Linked DNA regions of Homo sapiens: all the other regions are reported to be linked to region 2. The links are microRNA targets in miRTarBase. Many come from high-throughput screens and were not tested one by one. Region 2 holds a microRNA gene; each other region holds the end of a gene's coding sequence.

The links. Region 2 holds the annotated microRNA hsa-miR-409-5p (AGGUUACCCGAGCAACUUUGCAU, at 2,296-2,318, shown strand). A microRNA usually pairs through its seed, bases 2 to 8, with sites in the 3' UTR of a target mRNA and lowers its output. Matches are read on the target gene's strand: a 7mer-m8 pairs with bases 2 to 8, a 7mer-A1 pairs with bases 2 to 7 and ends in A, and an 8mer does both.
Region 1: miRTarBase lists RGL2 as a target of hsa-miR-409-5p. The part of its 3' UTR that is shown has no 7-base or 8-base seed match.
Region 3: miRTarBase lists STAG2 as a target of hsa-miR-409-5p. Seed matches in the 3' UTR shown: 8mer at 973-980.

Annotation. Positions count from the first base shown.
Region 1 is chr6:33,289,441-33,292,695 of GRCh38, forward strand. RGL2 (ral guanine nucleotide dissociation stimulator like 2) reads right to left here. Exons shown (of 18, transcript NM_004761.5): 17 at 2,990-3,104; 18 at 2,214-2,873. The coding sequence ends at 2,662. PFDN6 (prefoldin subunit 6) reads left to right here and starts at 161. Exons shown (of 4, transcript NM_001185181.3): 1 at 161-480; 2 at 734-804; 3 at 886-1,010; 4 at 1,276-1,493. The coding sequence starts at 417. The coding sequence ends at 1,405. It overlaps MIR6834 (microRNA 6834), which reads left to right and starts at 805; the gene lies at 805-885.
Region 2 is chr14:101,063,019-101,066,273 of GRCh38, forward strand. MIR409 (microRNA 409) reads left to right here and starts at 2,282; the gene lies at 2,282-2,360. MIR541 (microRNA 541) reads left to right here and starts at 1,477; the gene lies at 1,477-1,560. MIR412 (microRNA 412) reads left to right here and starts at 2,429; the gene lies at 2,429-2,519. MIR369 (microRNA 369) reads left to right here and starts at 2,580; the gene lies at 2,580-2,649. It also overlaps MIR410.
Region 3 is chrX:124,100,292-124,103,525 of GRCh38, forward strand. STAG2 (STAG2 cohesin complex component) reads left to right here. Exons shown (of 35, transcript NM_001042750.2): 35 at 283-2,365. The coding sequence ends at 306. Among named protein-coding and RNA genes, the nearest start is that of STAG2, 140 kb to the left of the region's middle.

The DNA.
Region 1 (3,255 bases), not on the chromosome of region 2:
TTCTGGATTAGTTTCCCCATCTTGCCTAAAAATGTCCTAGTCTAGTCTTTTTAGCAGAACTCCACTCCCTAAACATGTCAGAACTACACTTCCCATCAAGGGTCAGAAAGAAACTTCCGGCACAGTCTTTTCCCAGCATTCCTTGTTTACTTCCGGGTTTATTACTACTGAAGGAAGAACGTGAGTAGGTTAGGATTTCGGTTGAGAGGCTTGGGGTCTTGCGTTTCGCCCACCATCTCCTGGGGACAGGGTGGAGTCGATATCCGGGACGGGGGGGAGGTTGCGGTGCCCCTCAGGGCTACCTCTCAAGAGTGCTATCATTTCCGCAGGCCAGATCAGAAAAGGGAGCTCAGGTACCTTCCAGAGAGTGAGACCCAGCGCCCTTGTCTCGCACCCAGTAGGCTTTCATCCCCGCCATGGCGGAGCTGATCCAGAAGAAGCTACAGGGAGAAGTGGAGAAATATCAACAGCTACAGAAGGGTAAGGGAACAGGGTCGGTATGGTCTCGCCCAATGCACTTACAACCCAAAGCCATTACCGAGATAAGGTTTGTTGCCCCATCTGGGCCCTCGCGTGCAGAGACTTCCCCGCCTCAGTCTCAGTACTCTTCCCTGTTCACTCACCCGCTGCCCCCATCCTTTTCTGCTTCCTCAGATCCATATCCACCTGACTAGGATTGTGGGGATAGGTGGCACATTTGATGTTTCTAAATTGCCTTTCCTCTCATCCCCAGACTTAAGTAAATCCATGTCGGGGAGGCAGAAACTTGAAGCACAACTAACAGAAAATAATATCGTGAAAGAGGTGAGGGACTGGGATTTGTGGGGCGAGGAGGGACCTGTACTAGCCATGGTTCTGATCACATATGTCCCATCCCTCCATCAGGAACTGGCCCTGCTGGATGGGTCCAACGTGGTCTTTAAACTTCTGGGTCCGGTGCTAGTCAAACAGGAGCTGGGGGAGGCTCGGGCCACAGTAGGGAAGAGGCTGGACTATATCACAGCTGAAATGTGAGTTTTTATTCCACCACCGTGTGCTGCACCCTGTGATGCAAGTGAACCATTGGAGTAGAGGTGTTGAACCATTGCAGAACAGCTCTCCATAGTGGCCCCTAGTCCTCCAGTTCCTCCAACCCTTTCCTTCCCTTTTAACCCCCCTTCTTCTCCCTCCCCTGGATCTCAAGTTTTCCACCTATCTCTTTCTTGCGTTTAGCACTCTCCATAGTGAGTCCTACTAATTTCTCCCTTTCTGCTTGTCTCCCTTGTCTCTCCTTAGTAAGCGATACGAATCCCAGCTTCGGGATCTTGAGCGGCAGTCAGAGCAACAGAGGGAGACCCTTGCTCAGCTGCAGCAGGAGTTCCAGCGGGCCCAGGCAGCAAAGGCAGGGGCTCCTGGCAAGGCCTGACCCCATGGTGGGGGGAGGGGAGGGGAGGGGAGGGAATGAGGCAGCTCTAGGATCTATACTGTAGCTAATAAAATGTAAAAACACCTGGCTCTGTTTCCTGACCAGGCACTTCTGTCATATCCCCACAGCCCCTTCCACCTTAACACACACCACCTGTATTACCCCCTCAGGTTCAAACTCTTGCACTTGGAATCTCTTTGTGGCACAGTGTTCTTTCTTGAAAGTGAAATCCTAAATGTCTTCAAACCTACTTCTTGCCTGTATATACAACCCTTAACTCTCCCTCATCTTGGTTGGCATGATTCTTTTGGAAGGGCATTTGCAACATACCATATTGCTAGGAATGTCGGTTTAATTGAAAAAGAATACACAGTTCTCTAACCTGAGGCCCCAGGATGAAATGTGGTTACCCTCCTTGCCAACAGCCCTGGCATCTCTATTAGTACTTTTCAGCCTCTGTCTTCCTAGAATTTGCTTGAATGTAGCTTTAAACTGACTTAAAATCCCAGCATGTAATGCTTTATGGTATTATAAGTCCTCCCAAGTTTATATGTTGTCCATAAAGTTGTTCTGCCATTTCCTTGTCCTAAAATTGTTTTATACACATTTGCAGCAAGGGACCAGTGGTAGAGAGGTTACTGGAGAGAAACTGTTCTGAGGAAACTTTTTTCACCAATACCTCACTTTTTGCTCTGTTCATGGGGACAGAAAACATTGTGCCCCTTCCTGTTCCATGGCATCTACCTTCAGCCAATTCCCCACCCCCACTCATAGCAGCCAGTTCATATGTACTGCAAGGACAGGGGAGTAGAATTCAGGTAGTGTTTTGGTTTATTATCTTAGTGTTGTCACAGTGATAGAAACCCCCAGAGTGGGAAGAAGAGCTCCTGCGAGGACCTACATTTTGCCATTCCCCTCTGCCCTGGGGCTCAGAGCCTTGAAGCCTTTGCTTGGCCCTTGCATGTTAGGATATGGCCAAGAATCAGAAACTGATGCGTTTTTCCAGCACTACCTGTGTGCTGCACTCATGGAAGGTGGGAAGCTATACACAGGTATCCAACTTGGTTATAAGACACCAGTTCCCACAGGGCTGGATTTCTCAGCTGTCTGGTAAACCAGTGGCACTTCACTGCCCCAGGGTGGCTGGCTCCCTTTCTGAATTTCTGTCTCAATGTGATATAATTGCCACCATTCAGGATGGCTACCCACATCTGGTATGAACACCATGACTTCTGTAAGCCAACGGGGCTTCCTCCTCAGAACAGTGCCCGTGCAATCTTCCTCCCTGTGGCCTTGATCCTGGGAAAGGAGCCCCCTCCTCCCTCACTCGGAGGAGTTCCTGAGGCAGACGGGCCACTGGTGACGCCAGGTGTAGCAGTAGAGGACCTTCGCCGCTGCCGCAGGAGGAAATCGTGTGAAGCTCCATCCATGGCGTAGAATACATTAGCCGAGGCTGGGATAGTCAGCTCTGAAGGTTCAGGGGATGGATGTAAAGCACACACACAGTTGTTCCCCCCACAGCCGCCCAGATGTGGAAGTACTCCACTCTCCTCCCGAGTCTGCCTTTCCCTCATGGCCTCTGACCTCGCTCCCCTGGTAGCAGCTGTACCAGCTCATACTCTGAAGCCACTGCAGAGTCACGATTGTTTTTCTTAAGGACACGACTGATGACACTTGGAGCCTTGTCCTGGCTTGTCACCTGGCAGAACAGGAGACCAAAAGAGCAATCAATCAGCCATGATTTCCCATCCTTCTACCCTCAGCCACTGAACCCAACCACAAAATGTTACTTGTGTCCAAGGCTTTAAAATGAACAGGAAAACCCAATATGGTGGCTTCCTATACCCCAT
Region 2 (3,255 bases):
AGGGAATTGGATTAGTATAATGGCATTGGCTCTGAAAAACACGTTTCTATGAATATCAGTGTTGGTACAATTCTTGTGAAGGTGGTTACATTTGTGCGTGTTTACAGTGGAGTTGGTGGGGTCAGTAGGAACCTAGGGTCAAAAAATGGGATACAGTCTCCCCCTTTATGCAGTTGATCTTTTCTTGCTGCCCCAAACCTTCCCGAGAGCTTCCCGGAAAGGTGTGCTGACTTCAGGCGTGACACACTGGTAAGGCGTCCTCCCGGGGATCTGGGTGCATGTTGTCCCCAGAGCATTCATACGTAAGTGACAGGCATCACCTGGTCTCCCTCCATCCCCACGGAGGGTTCTGGGTGAGACGCTGACTCCGGAGGGAAGCAGAAGTTCTACGGTCAGTGGGGTCTGGTCTTTCAGGACAGTTGCTTCTGTGAACTCAGAAAATCTGAGACAGCTCTTAGTTAATTTAGAAAGTTTATTTTGACAAGGTTGAGGATACACCCGTAACACAGCTTCAGGAAGTACTGTGGTCAAGGCACAGCTTGGCTTTATACATTTTAGGGAGACATGAGACATCATTCAGCACATGTAAGAAGTACATTGGTTTTGTCTGCAAAGGTGGGACAACTTGAAGCGAAGGCAGGAAGGAGGGAGCTTCCAGGTCACAGACAGGTGATACACAAATGATTACATTCTTTCGCGTTTCTCATGAGCCTTTCCAAAGGAGGCAAATCAGATACGCATCTGTCTCAGTGAGCAGAGGGATGACTTTGAATGGAATGAGAGGCAGGTTTATCCTGAGCAGCTTCCAGCTTGAGTTTTCCTTAGTGATTTTAGGGGCCCGAGATAACTTTCCTTTCACACTTCCAAGGCTATTGATGAACACACAGGCATCCAGGAACATTCTGGGGTTCAGTCCTTCCTCAGACTCTGCTGTTGATACCTTACATGGTTCCATGCTGGCCCCAAGGACGTGCCCTTCGTTGGTGCCGAATGTCATTTGGTCATAGAGGCTGAAAGTCATTCTGGAGTTGATGTTTCCAAGGTCAAAAACCTTGCTGGGGCTGTGGAAAGAGCTCGTTGTTTGCTGGCCTGCTTTGTTGGTGACCAGCATTGCACATGGCTTTCTTTTCAGATCAAACCCTACCTGGAGAATTTCCAGAAGCAACAGCACCCTCAGGAGGCGGCCTGCAGCCGGAGCCCTCTCCAGGGCAGGTGCCTGAGGGCCGCCCATGGGACAGGCCCGATTGTACCCACGGTGCATGTCATCTGTTCCACTCCTGCTGACTCCGGTGCGTTCCGGGACCACCTTGGGAGGTGATGCCTGCCCCAGGAAGGAGGCTCTGATGCAGGTCAGTGCCCATGGCTCCTGAAGGGAAGTCGTCTGTGACATCTTTTCTTTCTTTACAGCAGGCCTCGCATGGCTGGCCTCTTGCTCCACTTGTAGCAAGGCGCAGAGGGCTCTCTGAGCTCATGCCAACGTCAGGGAAAGGATTCTGCTGTCGGTCCCACTCCAAAGTTCACAGAATGGGTGGTGGGCACAGAATCTGGACTCTGCTTGTGGCATCCATCGTCTGGCCCGATGCTTGCTGGCTGCCCGCTCCAGGAGGCACCTTCTGGGTGTTCTCTGAGTCTGGGGAAGGTTGGGTTCTGAGGTCAGGGCTGCCCTGACCCTTGTGAAGAGAAGACATCTGTGACTCACCTGCTTTCTTCTGCTGCATTTATCCCCCCAGTCCCTTATTTTGAATGTCTCACTTGCTTTATGAGGCTAATCAGATGGTCAGCCAGCTGTTGATAACTGTGAAGTTACTCTTTGAGGGATCCTGGGGTGATGCCTCTGTGGGCTGGAGATGGTGCTGGTGAGACCGCAGGTCTGGGGTCAGCGTTGTGCCCCGTTGAGCTCCCGCCAAAGGAATCCTCTGCTGGGAGGGAGGCTCTGTGCTTGTGCAGGGGTCCCTACAGGGTCACCCCCTCTCAGGGTCTGGGAATGAAAAGCGGGTGCGAGCAGGGTTTCATTTTCATCTTTAGCAAGGTGCCCAAGGAAGGTTGCCGTCTTTTCAGTATAAGATCCTACCTGGGTCTTGCACTCAACTTCTGGGAAGAGTCTCTAGATTCATTCTGGAAGGGGTTGGAATCGTTGGACTTGGTGATTGGGAACGTCCTTGGAGAGTGTGAGGCTCTGGGCTCTGAATGCCCAGACCTTGTGCTGCCCTTGGGGGAGGGTCTTCTGCAAGCACAGCCGCCTGCAAGCATTCACCTTAGTCCGAGCATCTGAGCCTCTCCATGGTACTCGGGGAGAGGTTACCCGAGCAACTTTGCATCTGGACGACGAATGTTGCTCGGTGAACCCCTTTTCGGTATCAAATTCCACCAGGGAGGCCGTCTTGGAGGCTGGGGCACCTCGGGGAAGGACGCCGGCATCAGCACCATTCTGGGGTACGGGGATGGATGGTCGACCAGTTGGAAAGTAATTGTTTCTAATGTACTTCACCTGGTCCACTAGCCGTCCGTATCCGCTGCAGCCTGTGGGGCCTGCGGGCCGGGGAGCCGATCGCGCTTCAGCTCAGCGCCTTTCCTGGTACTTGAAGGGAGATCGACCGTGTTATATTCGCTTTATTGACTTCGAATAATACATGGTTGATCTTTTCTCAGTATCAAATCTCACCTTGGAGGACCCGTTGGAGATGAAGCCCTTTTGAGGGTAGGAGCAGGACGGGTGCTTTGGAGTCGCTGCCTCAGTGGGGCCTGGTCACCGAGAGTGGGCCGGGCAGGGGTCTCTTTCCTGTCTCTGTGTCTTCTCACCTTTGATGTCCCATCCGTCCTCAGGACTGCTTCCCGGGGGCAGCGCTGGCACCACGGGACGCGGCAGCCACGTTCTTGAGCCGATGGCACTCTGGGTACCTGAGAAGAGGTTGTCTGTGATGAGTTCGCTTTTATTAATGACGAATATAACACAGATGGCCTGTTTTCAGTACCGCTACCGCCCGGTGGTGTGCGGGCGCCACGCCTGAGGCGGGACTTTCCAGGGTACGTGAATGCATGGGCTGGTGTGACATTTGTCATCCTTTCCCCTGACCCCCGCCATTGAATCATTTTGGGAGAGCTTTCGGGGGGCCATGTGGACTTTGGGGAAGATGCTAGGGTTGTGCACTGTGGTGGGGGGCGGTCATGAAGCTGATGAGCAATGGTGACGGGGCTCAGTCTGTTTTTCATGGCCAGTGTCATCGAGGCAGAGGACACGGGGGAGCTAGTCCCGCT
Region 3 (3,234 bases), not on the chromosome of region 2:
ATTATCTAGACATTAGTGGTACATATAAGCATAATTAATCCAAGGTTCCTACTTTAATTATATGTGAGGTAAGTAGCATCTTGATTAGTCCTGATGTTATTTCATTATATATCATGGTCAATTTAATTTTAGAATTATACATCTGAAGAGAGGGGAAGTTTTCAAAGTGGTTTTATTAGCATGTTATTTAACATAATAAAGTATTAATGTAATATTTATGGATATATTTAAAGAAATGAATGACTTTTAACGAGATTTTCTCCCCTCTCTCTCTCTCATTAGGTTCTTGGAGTGTCAATGTTTTAATACCAGTACACAATTAAATCTGTGGTGAAGTCATTTTCTAAGTGGAAGAGGAAATTTTAAAGTGTGGTAGATACAGTGAAATTCTGTACAGATTTTTCTCTAAGGAGAATATGACATGCTTATGCTTACCAAGATCAAGTGCATTGAGGGGCAGTTTTGTTTGCCTGAATAAACGTAAAGGACAAGTAAACAATTTGATGATAAGCTACAGTTTTTCTTAGAAAGTAAATATTTTATTTATGCGCTGTTAGTTGGCTTTTGAATCGATTATTTCATGCTTTTTTTTAAAAAAAAAAAAAAACAAAATAACAATCTGAAGAGGCATTTGGTACAGATATGAATTCTCTTACATTTATTTACTGGTTGTACTAAATAATGATGACCTCTGCTGGATTTCTGTTTACATCCAGAAAACAATGTTAAGGATGTATTTATTCCCCTACCCTGAAGAAAGTGTAGGATAGAATTGTTTTTAGCATTCTAAATTTAAATGCTTAAAACGTCAATCAACAAAACTTTGTTTTAAATATTGTAATTGTGGAGAAAAGTAAACTTATAAGCAGAACTTTTACAATTTTTTCATCTAAAAGTATTTTAAGATATTTTTAAAATCCAAGAGCTTCTCTATACTTTTCAGAAATATCCAGATGCAGTGAACTGCCAGAAGGTAACCAGTCTCAAACATGCTTATCCCATTATCAACCCTGAAAGTTTGCTTGTCCTTTAAGATAAAAATGTAATGTTGTGATATTCCTTCCAGTAATGCCACTGTATTTTGTCTCCAAATAAAAGAAGCTTATTGTAGTATGTTTGCAGAAAAATTCTAAACAAAAATTATACAGCTTATTAGAGTGTGGGAATAGGGATCTAAATTTTAAATAAAATTATATATATATATAAATTGGTGCTGATTTTATAATTGCGCAGTTTGTTTAGTTTTTTCTTACTTTTAAATTCCAACTTAAAATTATGAGGTTTCAGAAATATATTGAAAGTTTAACAATGTTTAAAAATAGAAAAGCATGAGTGTTCATGCTTTAAAATGATTTTTAAATTTGTATTTTATATTGTTTTATCTATCTGTCTTTGCAAGCAGTCTTCAGGTTAAAGATACTTCTAACAGGTTACAGTACATTTCCTCTGTATGTAAATTAGATGGGATAATAGAATTCATAACCCATAATATTCTTTGAAAGCTAAGCTTTAAACTTCATTTTATGTCCTTTCACAAATAAATTAGTTTAAAACAGAAAGTGGCTACTTGCCATTTTGACATCAACTCATTTTGCGAGGCTTAGGCAGCTAGACATCGTTTAAAACAAAATATTAACTTATATTACATGTGTATCTATCTATTGTCAGTCGTCTCTCAGTTCTTGAGGTATATTATTTTAATCATTCCATGCCTTAATATGCTTGCAATACAAGAATATCTTCAGATGGGTGAATACCAAAAGGCTTTCAGTTTTTAGTCAGAAATCAAGCATTGGGCTGTGGTAGCCAAAAACCATAGGTTAGCTAAAAAGATCATGATACAATTATTTTATTAAGTCATGGTTAATAACAAATGAATCCAGACTTGTCTAACAGATTTTCCATCAACAAATATTGTTATGTGCAAAAGTATTGCCTATGTTGTTTTACACACCACTGCATTAACTAGAACTGCTGAGAGGACTGTATATATGATTTTAAACCTAAGTTGATTTTTTTTCTCACTCTTGAAAGGAGTACTTCTTTGTGAAAGCAGTTCTTACAGCTTTGTTTTCAACCAGCTAAAAATGTTTTATATATTACTCTAACCTGTTGTCCTCCACATTCTATTGTCCTAATTGTACTGTTTTCTGATTTGTATTTATGTCTTGAGACAGTAACTTTTTGAATAAAAATAAACCTACAGTATGTTGTATGTTTTCTCTTGTACTCAAAGGGGGAGGGTGGCTATAAATGGTTTGCAAATTTATATCTATTATCACATCTTTTAATGTGTTTGGGGAATAATTTATAGAGAATACCATCAGTTTATATTTTTAATAAATCATATGTATTTACAATGAAACCAAATCCCTAATTGGATTATTACTTTAAAATAGGAACCTGTAACCATTATTGCTTTAATTTTCATCTGGTATGAGTTAAACACATTTACAAATGTTTACATTGTTTATACAGGGTACATTTGAGTGCCTACTGTGTGCTAGCATGTGTTAAGAGATCTCTCCTTCATAGATCCATTGGGGAAAACAAAATAATGAAACTTGTAATAAATGCCAGGAAGGAAACAAGCAGGATATGCTGAGGTAGAGAATGAGAGAGAGACAGTAAGAGAGAAACCTGCCTTAAATAAGGGGCTCATGGCATGGAGGTAAAACCATTTGAAAAAGAATTTACTAATTGAATTCTTATTGAAAACTCATCAAAGAAAGTGTTAAGATTTGCATTGTACTCTTTAAGAGATTCATGTCAGTGTAACACTAGCACATTGTTCATTTGGGCTAGTTTGTATATCAGAATTGTCTTCTGTCATTAGTGATTCAGAACTGAACATATAAAATGATAGCTAAAACAGCTGCGTGCTGTTTTAAGTAGTTTACATGTAATAACTCATTAAGCCTCATGACAAGAGTTGATAATGCTGTCATTCCCCCACCCTCTGCCACCAATTTTTTTTTTTTTTTTTAACAAATCAGAAGAAGGTGAGAATGAGGTACAAAGAAGTTTAAATACCTTAGACCAGGGGTACCAGAACGTGGCCTGTTAGGGACTGGGCCGCACAGCAGGAGGTGAGTGGCAGCCTAGTGAGCAAGCATTAACCACCTGAGCTTTCCTACTGTCAGAGCAGCCGTGGCATTAGATTCTCATAGGAGCGCGAACCCTAAAGTGAACTGCACGTGCAAAGGATCTAGGTTGAGCATTCCTTATGAGAAT